Linked DNA regions of Homo sapiens. The protein of the gene in region 2 interacts with the protein of the main gene of each other region in a pairwise test. Each region holds a gene or a part of one and is shown on either strand. Other genes may lie near its edges.

Evidence for each region.
Region 1: the proteins of HSD17B3 (region 2) and NCS1 interact in binary tests that used the Homo sapiens proteins (3 or more experiments, as listed by UniProt).

What each region holds. Positions count from the first base shown.
Region 1 is NC_000009.12:130,212,280-130,227,445, reverse strand, and holds part of NCS1 (neuronal calcium sensor 1), read right to left. Parts: intron 9,615-15,166; coding exon 9,476-9,614; intron 7,722-9,475; coding exon 7,643-7,721; intron 4,797-7,642; coding exon 4,708-4,796; intron 4,365-4,707; coding exon 4,287-4,364; intron 1,058-4,286; coding exon 959-1,057; 3' UTR 942-958; intron 1-941. UniProt on the Homo sapiens protein: Neuronal calcium sensor, regulator of G protein-coupled receptor phosphorylation in a calcium dependent manner. Directly regulates GRK1 (RHOK), but not GRK2 to GRK5. Can substitute for calmodulin. Stimulates PI4KB kinase activity.
Region 2 is NC_000009.12:96,296,020-96,312,159, forward strand, and holds the start of HSD17B3 (17-beta-hydroxysteroid dehydrogenase type 3), read right to left. Parts: upstream 6,158-16,140; 5' UTR 6,086-6,157; coding exon 5,932-6,085; intron 2,444-5,931; coding exon 2,397-2,443; intron 1-2,396. UniProt on the Homo sapiens protein: Catalyzes the conversion of 17-oxosteroids to 17beta-hydroxysteroids. Favors the reduction of androstenedione to testosterone. Testosterone is the key androgen driving male development and function. Uses NADPH while the two other EDH17B enzymes use NADH.

The DNA.
Region 1 (15,166 bases), about 34 Mb from region 2:
ATATCCTATGTCCCAGCAATTCTACCCTTACATATACACCAACAGCAGGCATCCACTGGTTCACCAGGACGTGGACAAGAACGCTGATCTCTGGACAATACCTTGGACGTTATTCACACCCACTCCCCGCAGACTACATTGAACACTCCACAAAGAAGAGGCAGGAAAAAAGGGGAGAAGGGAGGAGAGGAGAAGGAAAGAAGGGAGACAGCTCTCTACCAGCAACAGGGGCCTCTGCCAGGCGTGCTATCATTCTGTGACAGCTAGGAGCTTAGTTAGGTCTTCAACCGGCTGCTCAGAGAGGGGATAAGAAATTGCTCTCCCAGGTCCCTGGCCCTGGTTGGGAACTAATTTTCAAAGTGTCTTCCACCCAGGACAATTCTTTTCTTTTTTTTTTTTTCTTTTCTTTTTTTTTTTTTTTTTGAGATGGAGTCTCACTCTGTTACCCAGGCTGGAGTGCAGTGGCACGATCTCGGCTCACTGCAATCTCCACCTCCTGGGTTCAAGCGGTTCTCCTGCCTCAGCCTCCCAAGTAGCTGAGACTAGGTGCGCACCACCACGCCCGCCTGATTTTTGTATTTTTAGTAGAGACGGGGTTTCACCATGTTGGTCAGGCTGGTCTTGAACTCCTGACCTGGTGATCCGCCTGCTTCAGCTTCCCAAAGTGCTGGGATTACAGGCGTGAGCCACCGCGCCCAGAAAAATTCTGTTCAAGCAAACTCGCAGGCTGATCTGGGTCTATAAAAATGATCAAAACAGAGGAGCTCTGACCAATTTGAAGGCCCCCCTTCCAGCCTCCTCCTCCCAGCTATGTCCCTGCTAGGCTGACCACAACACCCCCAGAGACCCAGGTAATTACCTGCCAACCGTAGGTGTCCTGCTGCTGGGTTTTCACCCCTGACCCATCCCAGACCCACCCCAGGCCCCGAGTCTGCACTCACCCAGCTCCAGCCTGGGACTATACCAGCCCGTCGTAGAGGGACAGCGCCTGCACAATGGACGGGTCTGCCTTGGAACCCTCCTGGAACTCCTGCAGGGTCAGCTTCCCGTCGGCATTCTGTGAGCAGAGAGAGGCGGCTGAGGGTGCAGGGCCTCCCAGGAGAGGGCTCTAGACAAGCCCAGCCCAGGGCCGGTCCCAAGAGCCCTTCCAAGGTTAGATCAGGAGGGAGGCAACGTGGCTCAGGGCCTACAAGCAGCCAGCACCAGACAGACCTCGGCACTCATGGCAGGGTGGCCTTGGGCCGTGGCCCACCTCTCTGGGCATGTTTCTTCACCTGGGGATGGAGGGTAATTACCTGGCTTCCTCCAGGCACTCGGGTGACAGCTCTGTGCTTGACCAACTGGAAGTGCCCTGTAACTCCACACGTGTCATGGTTAATGCTATTAAACCCCATCAATGTGAGTAACTGACAAGGCTGAGAGCCTCGTGCAGTTCTCTGGGGTCACTCTTGGAAGGGCATTTAAACTGCTCCTGGAGCAGCCCACACTGGACCCTGGGAGACCCGGCAGGGGGCTGGACATGGCTCAGAAAGAGGAATTTTAGTGGGTCTCTCGGGGAGGGGATGTTTGGGCCAGAATCCCTTCCCCGGAGCATCTCTCAAGGAAGCCGGCGGACCACAAGGAAAAGGCCACGGAGAGCACCTACTCGATCTCGGGTATCCAGAGAGGGTAAGTGCCGAAAACAGCGCCGATGAGCACAACCGAGCTGTGCTCAGGGATCGCTCGCTGCGTACACGACATATGCCAAGCTCGGCGCAACCCTCAGTGTATGGAACCCTCACGGCCAAGCCAAGAAGGGGGTGCTGCTCTCATCCCCATTTTACCAGTGAGGAAGCTGAGGCTCCGTCACCTACCCAGGCCCCAGGGCTGGGAAACGGAGAAGTCAGATTCACACCCCAGTCAGTGTGACTACAGGGTCTGTGCTGTTTCCCAAAATGACGGAAGTGCAGACAGGGGGACAGTAAGGAATGTGCGGCCTTGGCCTTAAGCCACGTGGACGCACACCACGAGAAACTTATTATTCCGTGCTCCACACTCTGTCGATAAATCTTTTGATCATTACCAAGACGCCAGCTGGGTCTGAGGCCAGCACGTCTCTACCACTCCTCTAACATGGGCTAATCTCCCTTTTTTAATTAAGAAAGTACAGGCCTCAGGTCAAAGCTTTTAGGGCAAACAGCTGTCTCCAGCCAGAATCTAATAAGCAGCCCTGCGTTACAGGAATTTCTATGATTGACTGATCGATTGATTGATTGAGACAGGGTCTCACTCTGTCACCCAGGCTGGAGTGCAATGGCACCATCACGGCTCACAGCAGACTTGGTTTCTCAGGCTCCAGCCATCCTCCCACTTCAGCCTCCCGAGTAGCTGGGACCACAGGTGCACACCACCACACCCGGCTAATTTTTGTATTTTTTGTAGAGTCGGGGTTTCATCACGTTGCCCAGGCTGGTCTCAAACTCCTGAGCTCAAGTGATCCACTCGCCTTGGCCTCCCAAAGTGCTGGGATGACAGGTGTGAGCCACCGCACCTGACCATTTTATGTTATTTTGCTGAAGGCACGTAACACCTGGATTTCCCTAACGTCATTATTTCAAATTTACATTTAAGTTATTTTAGTTTTAAGTAAGTTTGATTTAAAGAAGGATTCCTTATTTCTTTGGAGTCCCTTTTTTTAGGCTTTTATTTTAGGCTCAAGGATACATGTGCAGGTTTGTTATATAGGTAAATCCTGTGTTGTGGGGGTTTGCTGTACAGACTATTTTGTCACTCAGGTGATAAGCATAGTACCTGATAATAGGTGGGTTTCGATCCTCACCCTCCTCTCACCCTCCACCCTCAAGTAGGCTCCAGTGTCTATGGTTCCTTTTATTTTATTTTTTTTCTTTTGAGACAGTCTCACTCTTATTGCCCAGGCTGGAGTGCAGTGGTGTGATCTCGGCTCACTGCAACCTCTGCCTCCCAGGTTCAAGCAATTCTCCTCCCTCAGCCTCCCGAGTAGCTGGGATTACAGGCATGTGCCATCATGCCTGGATAATTTTTTTTTTTTTTTTTGAGACTGCGTCTCACTCTGTTGCCCAGGCTGGAGTGCAATGGCGCGATCTCCACTCACTGCAACTGCTGCCTCCCGGATTTTTTTTTTTTTTTTTTTTTAGTAGAGAAAGGGATTCACCATGTTGGCCAGGCTGGTCTCGAACTCCTGACCTCAGGTGATTCACCCGCCTCGGCCTCCCAAAATGCTGGGATTACAGGTGTGAGCCACCACACCTGGCTTTGGTTCCCTTTAAAGAAGGGTTTCTTGGCCAGGCACGGTGGCTCACGCCTATAATCCCAGCACTTTGGGAGGCCGAGGCTGGTGGATCACGAAGTCAGGAGATCGAGACCATCCTGGCTAACACGGTGAAATCCCGTCTCTACTAAAAATACAAAAAATTAGCCAGGTATGGTGGCATGCGCCTGTAGTCCCAGCTACTCGGGAGGCTGAGGCAGGAGAGTTGCGTGAACCCAGGCGGCAGAGCTTGCAGTGAGCCGAGATCGCGCCCGCCACTGCACTCCAGCCTGGGTGACAGGGCGAAGATTCTGTCTCAAAAAAAAAGAGAAGGGTTTCTTAACCTTGGGCCTGTGGATAGAAGTCAGCAGGTCTATGAACTTGGGGGAAAAAAAATCAGCCTTTTTTTACTAACCTCTAACTGAAATGTAGCTTTTCCTTTGATGGAAACCTAGGCGACGGTCCCCAACAGGACCTGCAGTACCTGTGATCTGTCGACAGTAGGGATCACAGGTATTTTCATAACACACCCTAGTTGCTGCAGATATTACAGCTCGCAATTTCGGGGGTTGCTGGACCCACCACTACATCTTAGTGAATGCGTTAAGAAAGCAGCTCACAGAACGCTACATCACAGATTCTTTTTTTAAAATACTCTGACAGCTGTTTTCTAAAATAATCAGCTTCCTTTTTGATCTTATGGATTTTATTTTATGCGCTTAAAGCCATTATGCTGAGAAGTCTGTAGGCTTCTCCAGAATGCCAAAGGGGTCCATGGCAAACAAAAAAAAAAGGCTAAGGACTCTGGTTGATTAAAGAAAACATGCTGAGCAAACTGACTTAAGACTCTGGACACTGGATGGGGCTAGCTGCTGAGCAGGGATAGGACACCGTGCCGCCTGCCGTGAGCCATGGAGGAGGTTGGCAGCAAAGCCAGGCCCAGGATCCAGGGACTCCAATTCCTGCCCCCGACACCTTGCCTCCCTGGTCCAGGACCAGCCCCGCCCCCCCACCTCACCTTATCCATCATGGCAAAGATCCGGTCCACCCTCTTCTCAGGAGTGTTCTCCTCCTCTGGGAGCTCCACGGTATTCCCCTGCAGGGACGGACAAGGCGGGGGTGGGCCCTGGCACTCTGGGCTTTGGGCTCTTGGCCACGCATTTGCCCCCCAGACCTGGCAGTTTCCAGATGAGGGCCGCCCCCCTCTTCTTTCCCCTCCCCATCCCTGCCATTGTGCCCTGGAACATCCCACACCCCAGCCCCACTATCTACCAGCTTGTGCCTGCCTGCCCAGGCAGAGATGTACAGAACGGCTCAGCCAGTGACCCCTGCTTCCACCCTGGGCAGGAGCATGGCTGCACAAGTGCTCTCTCTCTGTCTCTCAGTCACTGGCTTTGCCCCTCCTGCCACCCCTAACCACACGAGACCCGGCTTCTCACCACCATCTGGTAAATGGCATCCACAATGTCCAGCATCTCATTCCTGGTGATGTAGCCATCATTGTCCAAGTCGTAGAGCTTGAAGGCCCCTGTAAGCAAGCAGCACTGCTGAGTGATCCTGGGCTGGGGCAGTGGGGAGGGGTCTTCAACTCGCCCCTCCTCTCTGTACCCCAACATGAAGTCAGCGACCGGATGGCCCATTCCTCATCAGGTCAACTAATATTTACATCAGGATAGACAGGGACAGACACACACACACCATTGCAACTAGGGTTAAAAAAAATAAGGCTGGGCATGGTGGCTCACACCTGTAATCCCAGGACTTTGGGAGGCTGAGGTGAGCAGACTGCTTGAGCCCAGGAGTTCGAGACCAGCCTGGACAACATGGCAAAACCCCGTCTCTACAAAAATACAAAAATTAGCCAGGCCTGGTGGCGGTGCCTGTAGTTCCAGCTACTTGGGAGGTTGAGGTGGGAGGATGGCTTGAGCCCAGGAGGCGAAGTTTGCAATAAGCCGAGATCAAGCCACTGCACTCCAGCCTGGGTGACAGAGCAAGTCTCTCTCCCTCTCTCTCTCTGTATATACATATATATATACGTATATATATATACACATATATATATACGTATATATATATACACACACACATATATATATTTATAGATACATAATTTATATTTATGTATATATATTTATAGATACATAATTTATATTTATGTATATATATTTATATACATAATTTATATTTATGTATATATATTTATATACATAATTTATATTTATGTATATATATTTATATATACATAATTTATATTTATGTATATATATTTATATATACATAATTTATATTTATGTATTATGTATATATATTTATATATACATAATTTATATTTATGTATATATATTTATATATACATAATTTATATTTATGTATATATATTTATATATACATAATTTATATTTATGTGTATATATATATTTATTTATTTATAAATTAAAAATAACAGGGCCAGGCACAGTGACTCACCCCTATAATCCCAGCACTTTGGGAGGCCGAGGCGGGCAGATCACCTGAGGTCAGGAGTTGGAGAACAGCCTGGCCAACAGGATGAAACCCCTTCTCTACTAAAAATACAAAAATTAGCCAGGTGTGGTGGCGGGCGCCTGTAGTTCCAGCTACTTGGGAGGAGGTGAGAGGATGGCTTGAGCCCAGGAGGCGAAGGTTGCAATAAGCCGAGATCGAACTACTGCACTCTAGCCTGGGTGACAGAGCAAGACTCTCTCTTTCTCTCTCTCTCTCTCTCTCTCTCTCTCTCTCTCTCTCTATATATATATATATATATATATATATATATATATATGATATTTTATATATATATTAAATATTTTATATATATATATATTAAAAATAACAGGGCCAGGCACGGTGGCTCACACCTGTAATTCCAGCACTTTGGAAGGCCAAGGTGGGTGGATCATCTGAGGTCAGGAGTTCGAGACCAGCCTGGCCAACATGGCGAAACCCCATTTCTACTAAAAACACAAAAATTAGCCAGGTGTGGTGGCACATGCCTGTAATCCCAGCTACTTGGGAGGCTGAAGCAGGAGAATTGCTTGAACCCAGGAGGCAGAGATTGTAGTGGGCCGAGATTGTGCCACTGCACTCCAGCCTGAGCAACAGAGCGAGACTCTGTCTATAAATAAATAAACAAATAAAATAAAGGGATGGGGCATTGGGCTGCCAGGGCCGAGGTATCAGTGGCTGGAGCTGAGTGCGTGGGAGAGCCCGGGGCCTGGGATGTTACCCAGAGGAGCACCCCTCTCCTTCCCCCAACTCCAGCCCCCACCTCCTCCCCACAGTCCACTCTGCTCCCACAATTATGGTGTGGCCTGCTACAGTCAACATTAGAAAATAAAATAGTGCATTGAGAGGAGGAGCTTTTGCATAAATAAAGTTCTCTTTTATTTCTTAAAAAAAAAAAAAAGAAAGAAAGAAAAAGAAAAAGAAACTGCAGGGTCTTCTTGCTGCCGATGGACTGAAGTGTGAAAGTCTTACTGAGCAGGGAGTTCTGGCCAGCTGGTTTCCATCTTCCCTCCCCTCCACGCACCCTGCATTCCTCCTAATGCCGCCAGGGGCCTGCACAGCTTCCCCTCCCAACTCCCTCTCAGCCTCCCTCCACTGGGCCTCGCACACGCGGGCCCCCTGGCTGGAGCCCTTAACGCCCCCTCCCCAGCTCCTCTCATCCCCAGCTCCTCTCATCCCCAGCTCTGCGCCTACCAGGCAGGTCCTCTCCTGCTCACAACTCCCTCTCTCCTCCTTGCCTGCAGTTTCCTGAGGTTTTTTTTTAAATCCTGCTGCCACTCTAGACTGATCGCCCTGAGAGCAGGGACCCATCTATCTTATCCCCCAGTGGATCCCTGGTACCAACACGTGGCTGCATTCAGTCGTTATTTGGTCAATGAATGAGTGAGTAAGTGAATGACTGAAAGCAAGAATCAAAGCAATGGCTATGAAAGAGGTGGGTCCGGCACTGAACCTGGGTCTTGGGTCCCCACCGACCCTCCTGCGGCCCAAGTCTGCACCTGCCCGAGTGCAGCCAAGGCTCCTGCCAGCCTCTGCCCCCAGCCCTCCCTGTCCACCTGCCTCAGCGAGCTCCTTCCTGCTGCCGGTGCCTCCAGGAAACCCTCCCACCTGGAAGCACAGATGTCTGCGCTGCTCTCTGAACCCTGGACAGTCAGCCTGGCCTAGTTACGTGGCCGTGTGAGGGCCACCTGCCCAGGGCCCAGGCCTGCCCTCTGCAGACACAGCTGGGACGCCATCTGTGGTCACTGCAGTGGGTGTCTGGCACCCCTGCCTGGTGAGGGCCGAGGGCTGCCTCCCTCTGACCTGGGCCCTCCAGCTGCTGCCACACAGGGCCAAGGGGGCAGGACTTACACCGTAGCTTCTCATCCAGGGTTCCCCGTGAGGTCACCGACAGCGCCTGGATGAACTCGGAGAACTCAATTCGCCCGTCCTGACAGGAGAGAGAGGGGATTGCCTCAGTCAGTGCCGGCCAGGCCACCGGGTCAGGCTGAACCTCGGGACGGGCGAGGGGCAGTCGCAGGCTCCAGACACTGTGGCCAATGGACACTCAGGTGGAGAGGGCAGGCTCGAAGGAATGGGGGGCGAGAGGCAAGGAGAGGGTGGGGAGCAGAGGCTGGGGGACTGTGTGGGGGGTTAGAAGTGGGAGAGGCCAGGAGGGAGGCACAGGAAGAAGGACTGAGGCTGAACGGAGAGGCTTACTCCACTCTTGATGGGAGAAGGTGCCAGAAGCACCAATGCCTGAGCTCCTCTCAGCAACAGCCCGGAAGCCCCTCGGCCTAGAGCTGTGGGCTCATGGGCTTTTGCAGAGGAAAGGCCGCTGCAGGTTGTTTAATTCCACCTCTTATTTGCAAATGAAGAAACCGAGGCCCAAGAAGGGAAGAGCCCTTCCCAGGGTCAGGCATGTGACTCCCAGCCTGGGGGCACCTGGGAGAAGCTGGGGATGGGATAGAATAGAAACCTCCACGGTGCCAGCAGCAGGGGGTACAGAGACAAGTGGCAGTAAATCCACCCTCAAATGCTACTGCAGGACAGAATCAGGGTCATCGCAGATAACCCAACAGCTATCCGTGCAGCCACTGCCCGGAGGTGACACAAGCTACCACATGGTAAGTCTTGAAAACATGATGCTCAGTGGAAAACGCCAGGAACAAAAGATCCTATAGCCTACGATTCTCAGAGCCTCAGTTTCCTGACCTACAAAATGGGTATTAAAATACCCAGCTCCCAGGTGCTTGTAAGGCCTCATTAAAAATAATCCATGTATGGCCGGGCAAGGGGGCTTACACCTGAAATCCCAGCACTTTGGGAGACCAAGGTGGGTGGATCATCTGAGGTCAGGAGTTCAAGACCAGCCTGGGCAATACGGTGAAACCCCATCTCTACTAAAAATACAAAAATTAGCCAGGTGTGGTGACGGCGCCTGTAATCCCAGCTTCTCAGGAGGCTGAGGCAGGGGAATTGCTTGAATCTGGGAGGCAGAGGTTGCAGTGAATTGAGACTGCACCACTGCACTCCAGCCTCGGCAACAGAGCAAGACTCTGTCTCAAAAAAAAAAAAAATCCATGTAAAGAGCTTAAACATAGTAAATGTTCAGGAAATATTGGTTATTATTATTAATCCTGTTATTATCATGGGAGGTATTTGCATTTTATGCTTGTAAGAGAAGTGTCAGGGTGTACATGTGTATACATGCATGTGTGTTGTGCACTGTATACATATGCATATGTGTATATGTCTCTCTGTGTGTACACGTGTGTGCACCTGCAAGTCCATGCATTGTGTGCATATGTGTGCATTTCTGTGCACTGTATGAATATACATGTATGTTCACGTGTGTGGCTGCATCTCCATGTATGTGTGCCCACATGTGTGCATGGTATTCGCCTGCATGTGCACATACACGTCTGTGTGAGAGCTTGGATGTGCATGTCAGTACATGTGTGGGTGTACATATGTGTGCACACATGTGCATGCATTTGGATGCATCTGTGTTTATTGTGTGTCTGCATGTGTACATGTGCATGCATTTATGTGCGACTATGTATCTGTGCATGTCAGTATGCACTCGTGTGTGTGTTCCTTCTCTAGAAGGGAACATCGGCAGGAGAGAGTGGGTGTGGAGACGCTGCGGGTACCCACAGGAGCTGAGCCAGCTGCCGCAGGCCCCATCAATCCCCAGCTCACCTTGTTTTCATCAAAGACGTTGAAAACAAATGTGGCAAACTTGGTGGGGTCTCCGAACGGGAAGAATTGCTTGTAGATCTTCTGGAAGCCTGCCGCATCCAGCTGCCCACTGGGGCAGTCCTTGATGAAGCCTTTGTACCTGGAGGCAGCAGACCGGGCCAGAGAGGGTAAAGGAGACGCCAACATCACCCACCCACCACCAACATCGCCTGCCCGGGGCCCAGGAAAGCTGTGGCTCCTTGTTCAAAGAGATGGTGCCCCATGGGGCCATGGACTTGATAGGCACAGGCGCAGTCCCACCTCTGCCTCTCACTAGCAGTGTGACCTTGGATACAGACTTCACCTCTCCTAGCCTCGTCTGCATAAGGGGGTTACGAACTGACATAGGAATTAACCCAGATACTGCACACAGAGTGAGCACTTGGCCACCCAGCCCTGTGCTCCACCCAAGGGGGCTAAAACAAGAGTCACATGAATGGCCTCCCCAAAGCCGCATGCCTGCACAAGACCCTCCCACCTCCCCACCTTCTCTGCTGAGCCCCTCCTGGCATCAGGCTGGGTGGGCTGCTGCTGGTGCTGGTGGGTAGACCACCATATGGAGCCAGCAGGTGGCTCCTCCCACATGCCCACACCCTGCCCCTCAGTCTCTGTTCCCAGGGAACTGGGTAAACAGCATGGGGGGATCCTGGCTGTTCCAACTGGACTTGTCCACCCTGCAGTCCCAGTGCCCAGCACAAAACCCTCCAGATCCCTACGTGGCTGACGCCGGAATGGCTTTGCACTCCCAATCCCAGGACAGATCTCTGCCATTCACTGCCTGTACAGCCTCAAGCAAACGCCCTCACCTGTCTGAGCCTCAGTTTCCTCATCCATAACAAGGGATGGTTCTCATACCCCTCTTGTTGGTATCAGGGGACATGGTGCATGTAACCACAGGGCTTAGCACAAAAATGAGTCGAGAGTGTGATCTTTAGAATTGTGAACTTAAATATGTGTTGTTCTAAACCCAATTCACAAACTGGCTCCTGTAGGCAGTTTAACCACCCCTCCCGCCCCACCCCCAGGAGGACACGCACTCCTCAGAGGACGATTCCTTCCACATCGGGAAGCCAGAGAGAGAGGTCATCTATCACCAACACCGGCTATTAGCTTTGCAGGGCCTGACGCGACTGGGAACTCTGCACACCTTACTCTCCCAGGATGCCCCTAATGGCCCTGAGAAGGTACTACGAGGAAGCCTTTTTTTTTTTTTTTTGAGACAGAGTCTCACTGTGTCGCCCAGGCTGGAGTGCAGTGGCAGGATCACGGCTCACTGCAACCTCCACCTCCCGGGTTCAAGCGATTCTCCTGCCTCAGCCTCCCGAGTAGCTGGGATTACAGGCATGTACCACCACACCCAGCTAATTTTTGTATTTTTAGTAGAGACAGGGTTTTGCCATGTTGGCCAGGCTGGTGTCGAACCCCTGACCTCAGGAGATCTGCCCGCCTCGGCCTCCCAAAGTGCTGGGATTACAGGCGTGAGCCACAGTGCCCGGCCGAGGAAGCCCATTTTACAGATGAAGAAACAGGCTCAGAGAGAGGAAGACATTTGCAAGTCCTCGAAGCCCGGACTACAGCTGAGGTGGGATCGAAGGTGAATGCTGAAGAGGCCGACGCTCAGAGAAGCCAGATCACCGAAGACTTTCACACGTCCCACTGTCCCCCATTCTAATGTGATCCACACAAAGCCTCCACCCTCCCCTCGAACATCGGAGAGGGTTATGGGAGTACCGCGCATGGTGCGCGCGGCACTCTGATTAGGGTCCATACAGAGAGGACGCACATGGAAAAGCCACCGTCCCCCTCCCCAATGAAGAGGAATCTAAGGGGCTGGAATGGATCCTGGGCACATGTGAAGGGACATGTGGGGCACCCAGGGGTGGCACCCTGAAAATTCTGCGGCCTGGAAGGTGAAGCTCAGGCACCCAGCCTCCTGCCAGTACTGTGGCTGCTGCTGCCGGAGTGAGGGCGGTTGAGGGGAGGAGGAGGATGGGGGAGGGCAGAGAAGAGGGAGCAGGATGTGGGAGGGAGGGCAGTTCTTCTTGAGTCAGACCATAGCGGGCACATGACCGTCCCAGCAGTGCCCACAGCAAGCAGGAGGCTGTGAATAGGCCAGCCCTCTGCACCTTTCCCTGTCCCCACCCCAGAACACCTTGAAGGGTGCCAGAGGCCCAGGGAGGTAGGTCCTGGCTCAGGAACCACAGGCCTTTGTAACAGCCCATAATAGCAGCCCAAACCCAGGCACTGTGCTGAGAGGGTGGTTCCCTCGGCAGGTCGGCCCAACCATCCCATTTCACAGATGAGGCACTGAGGCACAGAGAGATCAGGAGATTCATCCACAGCAATGCGTGAGACTCGGAGCCCGCCCTGCCTCTCCTGTCCTCTGCCCTGCCGGCCAGTGTGCGACCCCAGCATCCGTCCCTCCCGTGCATGTGATGTCCGCAGGCCCACCCAGAATCCCTGCAGCCTGGCAGGACTCTCAGGGTCTACTGGCCTCTGCTCAGCCCTGAGGTCTGTTCTGAGCCCCTGCTTGGATTGGCCAAGCAAGAAGGAAGCAAAGCACACGGATCTCAAGTCCCTTCCCACAGCAGGAGGAAGGGACACAGCCACCCCCGTCCTGGCCCTTAAACCTGCCTTCTCCCTGCTTCTTTTGAGTTTCTTCTGTTTCAGCCTGGCCCATGACTCCAGACTCCCAGGCCAGGATGGGCCCCTGGGCAGAGGAGGGAACATGCCTGGCACCAGGACTTAATGACCCATGTGGGGGCACACCCAACTGTCACCAGACATCTCTGGATGTCAGATGGTTACTTCTTCTTCGTGCAAACCTTCTAACTTATCCACAATGACTTTGTGTTACTTGAGTGATTCTAAAAGGTTATTAAAAACAATAAAGACAAAACAAAAGGCACCCAAAGGCCTCCCTGCAGATGGCTCACAGGGGCTGCTCTAAGGAGATGGAGGCTGTGCACAGCGCCAGCACAGTGAGCAGCTGTGAAAGGCTGGCAGTGAAGGTCTTTGCAGAGGGAAACTGGCTTCAGTGGGGAGCCTTTGGGGGCCTATCCAGTTACCCCTGCAGAGGTTATTACTGTGGGGCCCCAGCTCCCTTCTGTGCCAATAGCAGGGGCCCCAAGAAGCCCCCCATGAGGTGATGTCCATGAGAGGGTGCCCAGCCTGATGTTCCAGCTTCCTCCTGCCAAACCCCCCATACTCCACACCCAGACTTCAGACAGGCTCCTCTGAGCCCTCTTCTCACTTGGCCTCGACCTGTCCCCTGGCCCCTCCCCTGCTCTTCAGCCTGCCTGGCCCAGCTGTAGCCAGAATCCCCACCCCCACGATATCTGATCAAGTGCCTCCTCCCCAGTTCGCTTCACGTGTGAGTCCTCGTCCCGCCTCCAGCATCAGCCTGCCCAGTCAGTTCAGCAGGAATCCCCTGCCCTGGAGGCCTCCTCTTAGTTTCCATCTGCTGACCCCTCACCCTGTTCATTGGCTGTGAAGCCTCACTTCCTTGCATTCGGAGTTGATTCCCCTCTCTCTCCCAGGTTGTGATAGTCCTGACACCTATTGCAAGAGTCCCCAGTGAAGCCTTCCTGACCATTTTAAGAAGCGTGAGAATATCGCTTTCTTTAACATGGGCCCACCCACTCTCCCGCCAGGCCCCAGCTTAGATGCTGCTGCTTTCAGGAAGTCGGCCCAGCCCCAGGTCTGAGGCCTCCGGGCCTCCTCTGTGCCCCTGCCCACTTGTCTGTCCCAGCAGAGCCTGTACCACGCTATACCATATGTGCCTCCACGCCAGTCCCCCACCGGAATGTAGGCCCCCTGACACCGCTGTGCCCTGATGACCCGCATGAGGCCTGGCATGTAACATGGTCCTGGGGCATGTTTGTCCGGTGAGGTGAATGAATAAACACACAAATTGCCAGGCAGGGGCAGAGGGAACAAGAGCCCAGTTGGCGTCTGGCTCCTTCTTCCTGAGCCCCATGGAACAGGGACCTCCAGAGACCCTGGCTGAGACCTAAGAGCTCTGTGGGCACAGTTAGAAAACCACTGAGGTGTGGCCAGGCATGGTGGCTCACGCCTGTAATTCCAGCACTTTGGGAGGCAGAGGTGGGCGGATCATTTGAGGTCAGGAGTTTGAGACCAGCCTGGCCAACATGGTGAAACCCTGTCTCTACTATATATACAAAATAAGCACGTGCCTCATGTCTCTAATCCCAGCTACTCAGGAGGCTGAGGTAGGAGAATCACTTGAACCCAGGAGTCAGAGGTTGCAGTGAGCCGAGATCACGCCACTGCACTCCAGCCTGGGCGATAAAGTGAGGCTCCATCTCAAAAAAAAAGAAAAGAAAACCGGTGGGCCAGGCGTGGTGACTCACACCTGTAATCCCAGCACTTTGGGAGGCTGAGACGGGCGGATCACAAGGTCAGGAGATGGAGACCATCCTGGCTGACACGGTGAAACCCCGTCTCTACTAAAAATACAAAAAAATTAGCCGGGCGTGGTGGCGGGCGCCTGTAAGTCCCAGCTACTCAGGAGGCTGAGGCAGGAGAATGGTGAGAACCCAGGAGGCGGAGCTTGCAGTGAGCCGAGATCACGCCACTGCACTCCAGCCTGGGGGACAGAGCGAGACTCCGTCTCAAAAGAAAAAAAAAGAAAGAAAAGAAAACCAGTGATGTGCTCCCACCCTCTGTGTATGGAGAAGACTGGCCCAGAGAGGGAGAGAGACAGGCCGAAAGTCACACAGCAAGTCACCAGCAGAAACAGGGCTCAGACCCAGGGCTCCTGCCTCCCAGGCTCCCCGCCTCACCTGCCCCTCCGGCAAGCCAGGCTGCACCGCCCCCGTGTAAGCGCATGGGTAAAGCGACTGCTACCCAAACATTACGTAACCTCCTGCTCATCATCAGAAGGTGGAGGAGGGAGCCTGCCTCAACTGGAGCAGAGAGACGGGATGGGGGGGTCTGAACCTTCCCAGCCACCCCAGCCACCCCCAGGCCTCTACCACCCTGCAAATCACAGCTGTGAGGCTGGGATTTCACACCATGGTCCCAGCCTGACGTGCCACCCATCTGCCACCGGCTGGCTGAGTCAGGACCCCCTGAAGCAGCTGCACACTCCCTCTTGCAGTGGGCACCCGAGTGAGCTGCTGGCATATGATGAAGATCATGCCCAAGAATTTTGTCCCCAGGATGCCTGAGAGACGTGACTCCATCCCCCACTCCTGCAGGTTCCCACAGGCCCGGACCTCCTCCCTCCCCTCCTGCCAGTCCCTCCCTCTCTCCTTCAGACACGCTGCCGCCAGACCTGCTCTGGTGCTGGGACACGGGCCTGTGCCCCTGGCCTGGCACTAACCTGTTGTGCTGGGGGAGGACCCTGAGCAAACCCCTTCCCCACAACGCCCCTCGGTTTCCCTGTGAGTAAAGTAAGTGGCTCATACTAGATCAGGGTTTCCCCACCCCGGCACTCCTGACGTTCGGGGCCAGGTCGCTGTCGTGCAGGCCTGTCCTGTGCATAGTAGACACTTAGCAGCATCTCCAGCCTCTGCCAGACAGATGCCAGTAGCACCCCCTCCCCAAGTTAGGACAACCTCAAGTGTCTCCAGACATTGCCAAATATCCCCTCGGGGGCAGAACCACCCAGGTTGAGAACCACTGGAC
Region 2 (16,140 bases):
AGGCAGATCACTTGAGCCCAGGAGTTCAAGACCAGCCTGGGCAACATGGTGAAACCCTGTCAGTACAAAAAATTTAAAAATTAGCCAGGCGTGATGGCACACGCCCGTAGTCCCTGATACTCAGGAGGCTGAGTGGGAGTATCACTTGAGCCCAGGAGGTTGAGGCTGCAGTGAGCTGTTTGCACCACTGCACTCCAGCCTGAGCAACAGAGCAAGAACCTGTCTCCAAAAAGTAAAAGAAGAAGAAACATCAGAGAGTTTGCTTCCCCTCTCTCTGCTCTCTGCCGTGTGAAGCTACATCAAGAAGACAATTGTCTGCAAACCAAGAAGAGAGCCCTTGCCAGACATCAGATCTGCTGGCACCTCGCTCTTGGACTTCCCAGCCTCCAGAACCCTAAGAAATACATGCTTGCTTAGGCCACTCAGCTTATGGAATTCATTCTGCAGCTGAAGCTGATGAAGACCACATCTGTCTCAGAAATGGGTGTAATTACTATAACATAGTGGAAAGCACTGGAACCTTACATATATTCACAACCTCTAACCCAGCAAGACCACCTCAAGAAAATAGCTCCCAAAATAATTGGATATAAGCAGAAAAGTTTCTGTATTTACTCCCAATTTTATATAAAATGAAGAAAAATTCAGAAAAAAATTAAAATTTTTACCAAGAAAATGGTTAAATTATGGACCATCCATTTGATGGAATATTATGTTGCCATTTAAAAATCAGGGTTTTCGGCAGGCTGCAGTGGTTCATGCCTGTAATCCCAGCACTATGGGAGGCCAAAGCAGGCAGATAACTTGAGCTCAGGAGTTCAAGACCAGCCTGGACAACAGAGGAACAGTGAAACCCTGTCTCTACAAAAAATACATGAGCCTGTAGTTCCAGGAGGACACATTGCTTCGGGAGGCTGAGGTGGGAGGATTGCTTGAGCCCAGGAGGTCAAGGCTGCAGTAAGCAGTGTTTGTACCACTGCATTCCAGCCTGGGCAACAGAGCAAGTGTCTCAAAAAAAAAAAAACCCACAGTTTTGACATAAGAAAATGCTCACAACTAATGTAACATTTAAAAAATAATGGTATGTATAATCTGGGATTTGAGATAAATTTAGGAGAAACTGTTAGGTTTCAAATATCTTTCTCTTCAAGAATGTGGTATTTTTTTCTCTTATTTGGAATATCTCATATTTCTCAATGGAATTTTACAGTTTTCTTGAAAAAGACCTACAAATTTTATGTTAACTGTATTTCTAGGATTACTTATTTTTCTATTGCAAATGGAAAAGCTTTTCATTATATTTTTAAGGTGTTATTGATTTCTTTTTTTTTTTTTTTTTTTTTTGGAGACAAAGTCTTGCTCTATTGCCCAGGCTGGCGTGCAATGGTGCGATCTCAGCTCACTGCAACCTCTGCCTCCCAGGTTCAAGAGATTCTCCTGCCTCAGCCTCCCAAGTAGCTGGGATTACAGGCACCTGCCAACACACCCTGCTAATTTTTGTATTTTAAGTAGAGATGAGGTTTCACCATGTTGGCCAGGCTGGTCTCGAACTCCTGACCTCAGGTGATCCACCTGCCTCGGCCTCCCAAAGTGCTGGGATTACAGGAGTGAGCCACCGTGCCCAGCTGGTGTTATTGATTTTTAAACAGCTTTCCTCTTACAGTTTCTAGAATTCTTTCTATTCTTCTATTGTATTTGACATGGTTCTAGACATCAGTGTAATAGGCATAAGGAAGAAATAAAATACATAGGAATTCCAGGAAACAATGTTTCATTAATAAAAATGTGAAATTTATAATTATAATAGCATATAAAACCACATATGTTATAAATGCATTTTTTAAAGTATAATTATCAATCTATCTATCTACAGAGAAATAAGCGTGGAAGCAAATACTCAAAAATACTAATTGTATTCTAGTGACTCTCAGTTCTATTAGACCTTCTTTTTATAGAATATGCTATAATGCCATTAATGTCCTTGAAATGAAAGTCACTGATAATATGTTTTGCCTAAGCAAGTGACTTTTAAAAAATCAATATATGCCCTAGCTTAATGTAAATAATAAATAAAAGGAAAGTAGTTTATAATGTTTTGAAAAAATTAAAGTATATAAGCTGATATGGCACAATTACACTAGAAAATACCAATGCCCCACAAATTCCCAAAACAATCCCTAAGGCAAGGTACTGTCACCTTTGAATATCATTGTGTTTAAAAAAAGAGATCCAGGGAGTGAGATTATTATTTTTGTTTGCTTTTCCATAGAGTATATTTTCTCCTTTAAATGAATGCATACTGCTTTTATATTCAAAAATCTAGTGTTGGGGTGGATGTCTCAGGACTGTGATTGTTCAATACAAGGGAGGAGAAAGTCCCCAGGAAGATAGCTTACCTCGAACGAGTACGCTTTCCCAATTCCATCGCCTGCTCCAGTGATCACTGTGAAAAGCAAGAATGCTTTTAAAAGACAGAATTCATCTTTAAACTTCTCTTTCTCACTGGCCACGTTTTCTCACAAGCCTAGTCTCCAGGGCAGTCAGTACTCCAAAGGTTCATCCCTTTGCTCTCCAGCCCACGCCCTTGAAGCCCCTCACTAAACATTCAGGTGAAAGGATTGTTTGGTTGGTGGGTGGGTTGGTTGGTTGGTTGGTTTGTTGGTTGGTTGGTTGGTTGGTTAGTTGGTGTTTTGGAGGGATTGGCGAGACTGTGGAAAACATGTTCCAAAATGAAACAGATCCGCAGCCAGGGAACATTTCCTGCAGGCCCCATGAGGATGCAGATATTGTGAGCCTTCACCCCACAAGGGCAGGCAGTGTTCCCCATTATCTCTCTGCCCAGGCACCCATCTGTCATTGTAAGGACATTTCAAGGTTCCTTCTAAAAGTGGAGCTCTGCCCACTTCTCACCCCCACCCCACAGCAGCAATTAAAGGCCTATGGAAGGTAGGGAATTTAGCAAAGAGGAAAATACCAAAATGCAAAAAGAAAATGCAGTGAAATGAAGAAACCTGAAGAATTTGTACTCAATAGAACTATCTGTTAATATACAACAGTCAAATAGGTCTGCTAGTCCTTTCATATCAACATTACAGACATATTTAATGATTGAGCTCTAGTATACGCTTCATTCGTGAGAACGTCACAATTTCAAAATTCACTACAATTCGGTATATCGTAAAACTTACAATTTACCCTTGCAACAACAATTAAAGGGCATGCTTTCAAAAAGTGTGAACAAAAGGTACATTTAGCTCACCTGAGAGTGAGTGCAGGCCAAGCTGTACAAGCCTCACGGACCACACTGGCTTTAATAATTACTAATGATGTGTCTGTTCGTTTAGGAACTTCTAAGAGGCTCCATGCACACCGTCTGCAGCTCTGGGTGGAGGAACTATGCTCAGGGCATCTTGGGCCTTACCTTCCCCTCCCTGTGGGGAATCTTCAATTCACCCAATACAGGGCCTACACTACAGGCAAGATGATACCATCAATAATAACGACGGATAACGGTCACACACTCACTTCTTGCCATGTACTGCTTCTAGTGTTTTAGATGCATCATCTCATTTAATGTTCAAAACAAACCTAAAATGCAGGGACCATCATTATCCTTAGTTTATAAATGAGGAAGCCAAGGGGAAAAAGTTCGTAACTTGATTAAGGTCACACTGCTAAAAATGATGACACAAGGATTTGAACCCAGGCTGTCTGACTTTGGGGCCCTGAGTCTATGAATATACACTAAGAAAAGAATTAGGAAATCCAGCACAGAGCTCAGGGTACTCTATCTGAGGAATTAAAAATTTAGCCTCTAGTTCTTGCGTTTCTTTTTTGTCCCCTACTTGAAATATATTATCTCCCTGATATCTGCCTCTGCCCAAACATATTTTACTCCTGCTAGAGGTAACTCTATCCATCTTGACTCATAAAAACAGGTTAAGATCATGTTTTTCCTTTGAGTCACCAAATGCTCTTAGTCTCTGTCCCCATTTGAACTTCTTTTAGAATGTAGGTTTTTAGAAGGGCTTTCCCTACACAAACGACAGCAGCTGTGCAGAGTGCTACGTCCACCCACACGTGGGCATCTGAATCTGTGTGGAGTGGGGTATTTAAATCCAGAACACTCAGGTCAAGCTGCTGAGCAAGTTCAAGCAAGTTCACTCCTGACAGCATAATACCCCAAGAGGACACACACACACACACACACACACACACACACACACACACACACGCACACAGCAAATATAAGACGCAGAAGTCAAAAATCCATTTGTCATCCCAAACAATTTCTCACACGGTAATTTTTTTAATTTCCATTGCTAAGTTTTTAAGGTTGCCAGGTTTAGCAAATAAGGATACAGAATGCCCACTTAAATTTGAAATTAAGGTAAATTATGAATTGTTTAATGCATGTCTCATGCCATATGTGAGTTATACTAAAAAAGTATTCCTTTTTTTCTGAAATTTAAATTTAACTGGGTATCCTGTATTTTATCTGGCAGCCCTATAAGCATATTAGAATCTTTCCTATTTTGCCTAGATAATATCTCTAAAGTCACTTAATCATTTTTGTCATTGGATTCTTTGTGTGTGTGTGTGTGTGTGTGTGTGTGTGTCCAAATTTGAAATATAAGGCCCTGCAAAGACTTTAGCATTTCAGATATTCAAGGAGATGCTGAAACCATGGCCTCATGCTCTTCACCTTAACTTCAGTCATAGGGCTGAAGTTCTGCATGGGCGTTCCAGTAGATAAATCCCATGGGGAGGCAGCATTAATTGACACCAGCCAGACCCAGATTCCATTCCATACCATCCTGAAAACATGGCTCCATAGAGTTATGCGTTGCCTTGATTTTGTAACACCTTCATTTCTTAAAAACACTTGGATCCTTTTTTTAATACAATGAGTTAAAATTATTTAGATTTCAAAATTTGGAAACACCTTTTAGTAAAGTGAAAGCACCCTGGGCTTTTTGTAAATTTAGAGATGAGGATGCAGAAATTTCTGCATTATTTATTATTTGTATTAGCAGGAAACTCCCAAAAGAAGAAAACTCATCTAATGGGGTTGAGAGGATAAGTGCTTAGCAAGGGCTGGGTAGCCTTCTGCCCTAGTGTTCCCCTAATGCCCTACAGCTTGTGTTGCAGACCATTCTAATTTCACTCACACTTTTCTAATCCCCCCAATTAAAATTACCCAAAGGAATTACTTCTTTGCTCTCAAAGAGAAAAAAATGCAATATCCCTTTTGAGACATAAATAATAATAAGCAGGGGCTGGGTGCGGTGGCTCACGCCTGTCATCCCAGCCGTTGGGGAGGCCGAGTCGGGTGAATCACAAGGTCAAGAGTTTGAGACCAGCCTAGCCAACAGGGTGAAACCCTGTCTCTACTAAAAATACAAAACGTTGGCTGGGTGCGGTGGCTCACGCCTGTAATCTCAGCACTTTGAGAGGCTAAAGTGGGCAAATCATGAGGTCAGGAGTTCGAGACCAGCCTGGCCAACATGGGGGAACCCTGTCTCTACTAAAATACAAAAAATTAGCCAGCCGTAGTAGTGTGTGCCTGTAATCCCAGCTACTTGGGAGGCCGAGGCAGGAGAATTGCTTGAACCCAGGAGGCAGAGGTTGCAGTGAGCAGAGATCGCACTACTGCACTCCAGCCCGGGCAACAGAGTGAGACTCTGTCTCAAAAAAAAAAAAAAAACACCATTAGCCAGGTGTGGTGACAGGCGCCTATAATCCCAGCTACTTGGGAGGCTGAGGCAGGAGAATTGCTTAAACCCGGGAAGCGGAGGTTGCAGTGAGCCAAGATCGCGCCATTGCACTCCAGCCTGGGTGACAGAGCAAGTGTCTGTCTCAAAAATAATAATAATAGTAACAAGCAGGAACAACAGCAGCAAAAAAACATGAGATGGAACACTCCCTTACCTGCCCACTGTCCCATTGACCGCAAGAAAGACTTTGGCAAAACTTTCCAGTAGTTCAGTAAAACACATCTGGAGAATCTCACGCACTTCGCCAGGCAGGCCAGGCACACCAGCAGCCCTGTGAGGATGAAGAACTGTTCCAGGACGTCCCCCATGGCTGCACTCAACAGACTGTTTCAGCCCTGGCCGTGGCTCTCTGTGTATGCCTCCTGGGACCACGCTGCTCTGGAGACCTCCAGATCTTCTTCCAGGAGTCACTGGACGTGTTCCATCAAGTCAGGGGCATCTAGATTAAAGTAACTTCTTTACATAATCCTCTGACTCACAGGCCTTTGAATAAGGCTTTTGTTACTGTGGAGGAGCTGGTGAAAAAGTAAAAGGTGGACATGAAGGGAAAAAAACAAAGCCTGGACAAATATAAAATGGCAGCCCACAGTTCTCTCCCTGAATTTGGGAAAGTTAAAAAGGATGCAGAATCCAAGGCAATTATTCATACATTTAGCACTATGTATTGACTGCCTACCAGGTGGAGTCCCCTCTTGAAGGCATTAGGAAGTTAATAGTGACCACAGAGGGTCTCTCTGGTTTGGAGCTTAGATTCTGGTAGCAGGGACAGATGATGAGCAGATAAATAAGATAACATCAGATGGGGCAGTGGCTCACGCCCATAATCCCAACATTTTGGGAAGCCAAGGCAGGCGGGTCACATGAAGTCAAGAGTTCAAGACCAGCCTGGCCAACATGGTGAAACCTCATCTCTACTTAAAATACAAAAATTAGCCAGGCCTGGTGGTGGGCACCTGTAATCCCAGCTACTTGGGAGGCTGAGGCAGGAGAATCACTTGAACTTGGGAGGCGGAGGTTGCAGTGAGCCAAGATCACGCCATTGCACTCCAGCCTGGGTGACAGAGTGAGATTCTGTCTCAAAAAAAAAAAAAAGATAACATCAGTGCTATGAAAAAGCACTATTGAATGATGTGTTTGAGTAGCTACTCAGGGAATGCTTCAGAGAGGGTGTTCAGGAAGGAATTCCATGAAGAGGTGGCATTTTTAGTTGAAATTTGAATGAAAAGGAGCCAGCTCCGCAAAGATGAGTTTCCCCCTCCAGGCTAATGGAACGGCTAGTACAATGCCTGAAGTGAGAAAAATCCACGTATTTGAGGAATAAGAACTAGGACAGGACAGGCATGGTGGCTCACGCCTGTAATCCCAGCACTTTGGGAGGCCGAGGCAGGCGGATCACAAGGTCAGGAGATTGAGACCTACTAAAAATACAATAATTAGCTGGGTGTGGTGGAGCATGCCTGTAATCTTAACTACTTCGGAGGCTGAGGCAGGAGAATCGCTTGAACCTGGGAGGTGGAAGTTGCAGTGAGCTGAGATTGTGCCACTGCACTCCAGTCTGGGCGACAGAGCAAGACTCCATCTCAAAAAAAAAAAAAACACTAGGACAACACAGCAGAGGGACTGGCCACAGAGAGTAAGGGAGGAAAAGGCCAGAGCAGGAGGGAGGAGCCATGCCCTACGGGTGAGTGTGGACTTTCAGAGCAACCAGAAGCCATTGCACAGATTTAGGAAACAGAGTTCTATACTCTGAATTATGCTTTTAAAAGGCCACTGGATGCTGAGGGAAGATGTCCTTCTGGGGGTGGGATGGAGGGTGGGTGTGACAACTGAAGCAAGGGCAGCCAGGATACTGAAGTCATCCCTGCAGAGGCCACAGGATCAGTCCTTGGCCTTCTCTCATTTCTGCCTGTGCTCACTCTCAGCTCACTCTGTGCTGCAATCAACAGCCTTGCGCTCACCCTAGAAGCAGAATTGCTGGCCAGAACATAGATTCATACGTCTTTATGCTAGATATTGTCAGATTTGCCTTCATTTTGCATTCACGCCAACAACACGTGAGCATGTTCGTTTTCCCACTGCCTTAGCAGTAAAGCATGTTGTCAAGCTTTGGGACTTTTGCCACCCAGTAGGTAAGAAGTAGCATCCAATGTTGTTTTAAGTTTAAATTATCTTATCAGCCAGGTTGGAGAGATTTTCTTAAGCCTAAGAGCTATTTTCACTGTTTTCTTTGTGAATTTTCTCTCTCCTGCCCGTTTTTCTATGTGGTTTTTGGTCTTTCCCTTCTCTGTATTTAGAGATGGTTTCAGGACTCTGATTAGTCAGAAATTCGACCTGCTCACTCTGTCCTTCATGGTCATTGATTATCTCTTCAGGTGTGTCTGATCATTGTTAAGTCAGCCCATTGTGGTTTTTATTTTAATGACCTTAACTTCATTTCTAAAAGTTCCTTTTCTTTTTTGCAAAACTGAGGCTTTTCTTCTTATGGTTCTCTGCTCCATGCAGATATTTTTAATTTTGACTTTCTTTACCTCAGCATAATTGTCTTATGATCTGGCTTTAACAATTCCAGTACCTACATCAGCCTTTCTGTTGCTGTCTCCTCTCTCTGGTAGGTCTCACTCATGGTGCCCTGTTTCCTTGTGTGCTTGATAATTTTCACCTGTGCACATCCCATTTTGCTTGGAAATTTCTCTGTGAGGTTTTCTGATGAAGCTGTATTCCTCCATAGAGGAGGTGGTTTTGCTTCTACCAGATACCTAGAGGAACTTCCAATTTGGAAAATTAAATTCATGGCTAAATTCATAGTTTTCTAAACCATGCAGGTGAAGTGAATTTGGTCTGCCATGACACCCCACCCTGGCCTGTGTTGATAAACCCATAGGACGGTTCTCTGGCCATCTCCACCCACCACCACCTCCTCTGCTCAGTGCCAAGGTGCATTTCCTTGTAGTCCGGGAGCATGTTTCTTCTGGACCACGGTTACCCTGAGGATGTAGAAACCTTTTGGGACCCCGGCCTTATGGAATGTTCATCTATTAGACTCTTCCTGACCTTCATTTCTGTCCCATACCATCACCACTGAAGCTCCCCATCACCCCGTCCAGCAAATGCAGGGCTTATGTGGCTTCAGTGCTCAATTTACCTCTCTGTATTGCTGCTTTCTCTTATACTGAAATTTTTGACTATCTTAATAGGTTTAATGCTTTTAATAAGCTCTTTGAGAATATCTCTTCTGCCCACAAAAACATGGATAAATCATATTTTGTCAAGCAAAAGAAGTCACAGAAAAGTACTGCATTAGTTATCTATTCTGTATAACAAATTAACCCAAAACTTAGTTGCCTAAACAATGCCATGTATTATCTCATGATTTCTGTGGGTCAGGAATCCAGGCATGGATCAACTGGATCCTCTAGCTCAAGGTCTTTCACAGGTGGCAATAAAGTCCAGCCAGGTGGCCGTCATCTCCAGGCTCACCTGGGGAAACAGCAGCCCAGTCACTTGTTTGTTGCAGGATCCGGTTGCTCCTCCTTTGTTCCTTGCTGTGTGGGCCTCCTCACAGGGCAGCTCCCAAGAGCAGCTTGCTTCATCAGATCTAGCCAGTGAGAAGAATCAGACAGAGAGAGAAGGCAGAAGCCACACTCTTGTAATCTGATCTCGGAAGGGCCATTCCATCACTTTAGCTGCATTCTGTGCATTAGAAGCAAGTTCCTAGATCCACTCCATATTCAAAGGGAAAAGATCACACAAGGGAGTGAACATAGCGGGTGGGGATCATTGAGATCCATTATAGAAACTGCCTTCTACATGTACATACCATAGGATGTTATTTATAGGAAGTTAAAGAACAGGCAAACATAATCTTCAGTAAAATAAAATCAGAACACTTGTTGCCTGGTAGAGGTGAAGGGATTGGCTAGAAGGGTCATAGGGAACTTTTCTGGTTGATTAAGATGTTCTATATTTTGATAAGCAATGTGTTCGGAAGGGCATGCCTTAATCAAAACTCACTGGACTGTACACTTTTAAGCTCTGTGCAATTTATTGCATGTAAATTATCTGGAAACTTCAAACAAATTTTATCCTGCAGTTATTCTTTGGATGGTGGATAATTTAGACTTCCGTTACCAGAACTGTAAGCCGCAATTCATTTGTGTGCTTGGTCACAGACCAAGATTTCCCCACTTTTACTTTTCAGCATCAAAAACTATATCCAACCCCATGTAATAGATTGAGAAATTACATACCAATATCTGACTGTGAATTCAGCAAAGCTTTTAAATAAATGTGTATTTTTCTATTTGCAAGATGCTATGACTTGTATCACCTACCCCCTGGCCCCAGCCAAAATTCATGTATTGAAGGCCTAACCCCCAGTGTGATGATATTTGGAGATAGAGCCTTTTGGGGGTGATGAGATCATGAGGGTGGGGCCTTCATGGTAAGATTAATGCCCTTAAATGAAGAGACACAAGGCTGGGTGCGATGGCTCACACCTGTAATCCCAGCACTTTGGGAGGCCAGGGTGGGTGGATCACCTGAGGTCAGGAGTTCTAGAGGAGCCTGGCCAACATGGTGAAACCCCATCTCTACTAAAAATACAAAAATAAGCCAGGCATGGTGGCACCCGCTTGTAATCCCAGCTACTCGGGAGGCTGAGGCATGAGAATTGCTTGAACCCAGGAGGCCGAGGTTGCAGTGAGCCAAGATCGCACCACTGCACTCCCAGCATGGGCGACAGAACGAGACTCCATCTCAAAAAAAAAAAAAAAAAAAAAAGAAGAAGAAGAAGAGACACAAGAGATCTCCCTCTCTCTCTCCACCACATGAGGGCACAGCAAGCAAACAAGCAGACCACTGTCTATAAGCCGGCAAGAGAGCCCTCACCAGGAACCAAGTGGGCCACCACCTTGATCTTGGACTTCTCAGCCTCCACAACTGTAAGAACAAAATTCTGCCATTTAAACCACTCAGTCTGTGGTATTTTTCTATAGCAGCCCGACCTGACACAGAGTACATGGGAGCGTTTAAAAATTAAATTCTTCAACGTGGAGACATGTTATTTCCCCAGCATATGTTTGCTGTTGTTTTCTGCTCCACTTGAGAAATGTGACTGAATGACTGATATTATTATAGCAATAACATTAATGCCGATGTAAAACTTCTAAATACATGATTTTCAAAACTCAATAAATAGTAACCAGAAAAAAAAATTCTTACCATACATCTAGCAACTCTGCATAGTTGCTAAGCAGAGAAAAACAGTTTGAGAACTGGATCTCCAAAACAGGGATCATAAACTCAGATGCTCACAGTGGTGGAAGGCAGGTGATGTAAGTCCATGAAACAGGGCAGGGACTTTGTGCTGTACTTTTTTTTTTTTTTTCTTTTCAAGACAGAGTCTTGCTCTGTTGCCCAGGCTGGAGTGCAGTGGTGTGATCTCGGCTCACTGCAACTTCTGCCTCCCGGGTTCAAGCAATTCTCCTGCCTCAGCCTCCTGAGTAGCTGCGATTACAGGTGCCCGTCATCGCGCCTGGCTAATTTTTGTATTTTTAGTAGAGACAGGGTTTCACCATGTTGGCCAGGCTGATCTCAAACTCCTGACCTCATGATCCGCCACCTCGGCCTCCCAAAGTGCTGAGATTACAGGCGTGAGCCACCGTGCCTGGCCTTGTGCTACACTTTTCCCTACAGACACAGAGCAGGTATAATGTTCACTTCCACAGACAAATGCACTCTCTTTCATTGTCTTTGAAATCTTGTCTCTCTTGATTTAGCTTTTATTTTCTTGTTTTCCTCTCAGCTCTACTTTAGGAAATGACACTACAAACACCCTGAAGGATAGAGACTGACCCTAAGCCTCCACTCGTGGGACATAGAGAACAGGGAACATGGAGAACATGAAACAGAAACTGTCCACTCCACCCAGCTCCAGCTGTCCTGTGGAACTGTGGCCTAGTAGGCAAATTGTGATTTTTTTTAAGTGATAAAAAAAATCCAGTTTCTAATAAGACATGTCTCCATTTTTATAAAAAATGTTATGAAAATAACAACTGGAATATAAAGCAACAAACTCCGAAACCATGTTAACACCGCATAGACAAAATAAAACACATCTGCAGCCCTCCAAGGGCCCGTGGATGAAAGGTCTGAGGCTTCAGATTAAGGAGGTGAATTAACTTAGTTAAGTGCAGTGTGCATGTACTTGGTGGGGCAGTGGGGCTGGGATTGAAGTGGGTGAGGAGACAGTGAACAGAATGCAATAACCAAGTTCACTGAGTACCCTCTCCACAACACTACAGTAAAGCTAGGAGGAGCAGAGGCAAGAACAAATATGGAAAAGCTGGTAGCACTGAGAAAACACATAAAGTCAGTAAACCAAGCTTGATATGGGTCCAAACAAGGCCTTAGATGCAGGACATAAGGGAGCAACTCAAAGGTCAAAGAACATCTTGAAGTAACAGACATGAGCAGAAAATTGGCCGGGCACAGTGGCTCATGCCTGTAATCCCAGTACTTTGGGAGGCTGAGGCAGGCGAATCACGAGGTCAGCAGTTCAAGACCAGCCTGGCCAAAATGGTGAAACCCCGTCTCTAATAAAAATACAAAAGATTAGCCGGGCATAGTGGCGGGCGCCTGTACTACTTGGGAGGCTGAGGCAGGAGAATCGCTTGAACACAGGAGGCAGAGGTTGCAGTGAGCTGAGATCGCACCACTGCACTCCAGCCAGGTGACAGAGTGAGACCCCATCTCAAAAAAAAAAAAAAGACATGGGCAGAAAATTAAATGAAGAAATACAACTAGTATGCAAATGTGTGGAATGTTTAACCTCATACATTATTAGAAATGTCAACTGAATGAGTAAAATACTACATACACATAAGCTAGTAAATAGAGCATCAGGCTCGCATGCAGTGCTCATGAGGTTGCAATGGAACTGAGACTCTCCTCCGTGCCTCCGTGGTGTAGATTAAACAGCAGAGGCTTTCTGAAATACACTCTGTACACAGCTTCCCAGGGGAAGGGGAATCTTTTGGGGGTCATGGAAATGTTTTAAAACTGTATTGGGGTGATGGTTGCACAGCTCTATAAATTAACCCCCAAATCATTAAACTGTACACTTAAAATTGCTGGTCTTTAAGATATTTAAATAATACCTCGATCAAGCTGTTTTTTTAAAACTGGCAGAGCTAGGACGTGGCCCCAGGCCGTCTGATTCCAGAGGCTGTCATCACACAACTTCTGCCCACCTCCACCATCACAACAGGAGAATAAGGCACCTTTAGAAAGTCCAGCCATCCCGATGTCAGCAGCTTCCTTGGTTGGTTTCCTTGATAAAATGCACAAGGACTGGATGATCTTATTCAACTCTCAAGGTGACCCCATCCACCCTGCTCTTCAAGCCAGTACCCCAAGTTTGAGATGAAAATGCAAGAACAAGTCAGTCTAGAAGAATTGTTCTGAACTAAGGTTCCCAAATCACTAGAGAGTTCCTGAAAACAAGAATGGCCATCCTCAAGTCATTTTCAGTATCCCCCAAAAGTCAAATTTTCAGAAGACTTTTCTATCACAAAGCTGTAAGGATTAAGACAGTCATCAACTCTCCGTACTTTTGGCTAGAATTAACTCCAGTCAGCTGGTTAGTAACATCAGCTATCTCATGTCAACCAGAAATTCTAATTGGGAATCACACAGTTTTGACAAATACAAAATACAGATTGTGCACAAGTACAATTTTATGTTTTGAAGGTTTTTTCAAAGTGTTGGCCTGAGGGAGCACTAACCAGGGGGTGCTGGGGTTGAAAGAGTGGGAAACCCCCTGGAGGAGAGCGCTAAGGGATTGGTTCCTACTTTTGGATCTCACAGAACGGGTACTCAGTAAATGGTAGTTGTCATTAACAGTATTGCTATTGCAGATGTGATCACATTTAACAAAACCTGGAGGAGCAAGCATTTCTATAATTGTGAGTGGCTAGCAATGGCAGAAAGGGTGTGCAGTCTCAGCCCATCAATAAAAAGGGTCCTTCTACCAGCTGATCAAGGACACCCTGGGAGTCTAGAAGATGGGATAAATACTCGCTTCTTGCTCCCATCCAACTACCTTTCAAGGCCTGCTTGGCCTCCGTTCAGCTCATCATTGCTAGCTGTCCCTATCCTATGAAGTTCCCGTTCGTAAACATCCTACACAGAAACCCAACTCTATCTTGCTAATATGCAGGCTCTCTCATGCCAGGGGTGAACATGTGGAGGCACAAAGAAGAAGAGAGCAGGGAACCACACCCTGTCAAATAAACTCTCATGAATATTCCAAGTTTAGTTTACTTAAGAAGAGAGAATTTCGCCTTCATTTACGTTTTACGTTAAGAGAAATTCATTGAAGAAAAACAACATCCTGAAGCTTGCCCTTTGATTATATGGTCTATTCATTCATTCAACAAGGATCTTTCTGTATGCACCGTGTACCAGGCCTTGTTCTACTCAATTTAGAGTTTTTAGAGCCAGCTTTATGGGCATAAACTCCACTTCAGGAATCACGTCTTTCTGTCCCAGAATCAGTGAAAAGCCAAATAGCAACAAGCTTTTCTGTAGCAGGTGCTTACTAATGTTTCTTTCTATTCTTTTTCAGGGTAATTTATTCTTATCTATACTGAAAATGTTTATTAAACTAAGGCTCACCACACAAAGTAAGCTACATAGTTTACTCAAGAAAGATAACCAGGGGAAAAGAAAGAGGTTTTGGAGCTGCCAGAGCTGTGTTATCCAAATCACTAACCACTGGCCATATGTGGTTATTTAAATTTTAATTTGATTTCATTTAATTTAAAATTCAGCTCTTCAGTTGCACTAGCCATTCCAGGTGGTCAATAACCACATGTATTGAACAGCACAGATTTAAACACATCCCTCAGTGCAGAAAGTTTTACTGAACAGTGCCGATCAGACCTTTGTGAGCCATTTTGCTTCCAAATGCATACAGTTACCAGAGCTTATAAACCTCATCACTAAAACTAAAATATATAAGAGGAATATTTATGTTTAGAACATGGTTTCTAGAACTTTATTGATATCACTGAGTTAATAACAGGGTTTTCTCAGATCCTGGGGTGGAGGGAGGAGATGAATATGACTGTGTTCCTTATGTAACTCTGTCTACTCTTCCTTATGAGGGCATGCCAGACACAGCAGTATTCCTAAGTGTAGTATTCTGTTCTCATGCTGCTAATAAAGACATACCCTAGACTGGGTGATTTATAAAGGAAAGAAGTTTAATTGACTCAGAGTTCCACATGGCTGGGGAGGCCTCACAATCGTGGCAGAAGGCGAAGGAGGAGCAAAGTCACATCTTACATGGCAGCAGGCAAGAGAGTGTGTGCAGGGGGATCTCTGCTTTATAAAACCATCACATCTTGTGAGACTTACTCATTATCATGAGAACAGCAAGAGAAAGACCCACCCCCATGATTCAATTACTTCCCACCAGGTCCCTCCCGTGGCATGTGGGAATTATGGGAGCTATAATTCAAGATGAGATTTGGGTGGGGACACAGCCAAACCATATCACTAAATATGCATAATGAAGTCAGACTTAATGTCATGCCTATAAAACACTCTATTCTTTTTCATGGACTTTCTTTTCAGTACTTTGAATGTTATTCCACTGCCTTCTGGACTCCACTGCTTCTGATGAGAAGTCAGCTGTTAGGCCGGGCACTGTGGCTTACGCCTGTAATCCTAGCACTTTGGGAGGACGAAGCAGGTGGATCATGAGGTCAGGAGATCGAGACCATCCTGGCTAACACAGTGAAACCCTGTCTCTACTAAAAATACAAAAAATTAGCCAGGCATGGTGGTGGGTGCCTGTAGTCCCAGCTACTCAGGAGGCTGAGGCAGGAGAATGGCGTGAACCTGGGAGGCGGAGGTTGCAGTGAGCCAAGATTGCACCACTGCACTCCAGCCTGGGTGACAGAGTGAGACTCATCTCAAAAAAAAAAAAGAAGTCCGCTGTTAATCTTATTAGGGTTCCTTTGTAAGTGATGAGTAGTTTCTCTCTTGCTGTTCCTAAGATTTTCTCTGTGTATTTGGCTTTTAGTATTTTTACATCAATGTCTTGATGTGGATCTCTTTGCATTTGTCTGTGGAGTTTGTTGAGTTTCTTGGATGTGTGAATTCATGTTTCTCAACAGATTTAGGAAGTTTTTACCCATTATTCAATTTTTTTAACTCTTTTCTCATTTTCTTCTCCTTCTGCCCCACCAATTATGCAAATGTTGATTTGCTTTCTTTTCATTTTTCTTCATTCTATTTTCTCTGATCTTTAAATTGAATAATCTCTATTGATCTCTCTTCAAATTTACAGATTCTT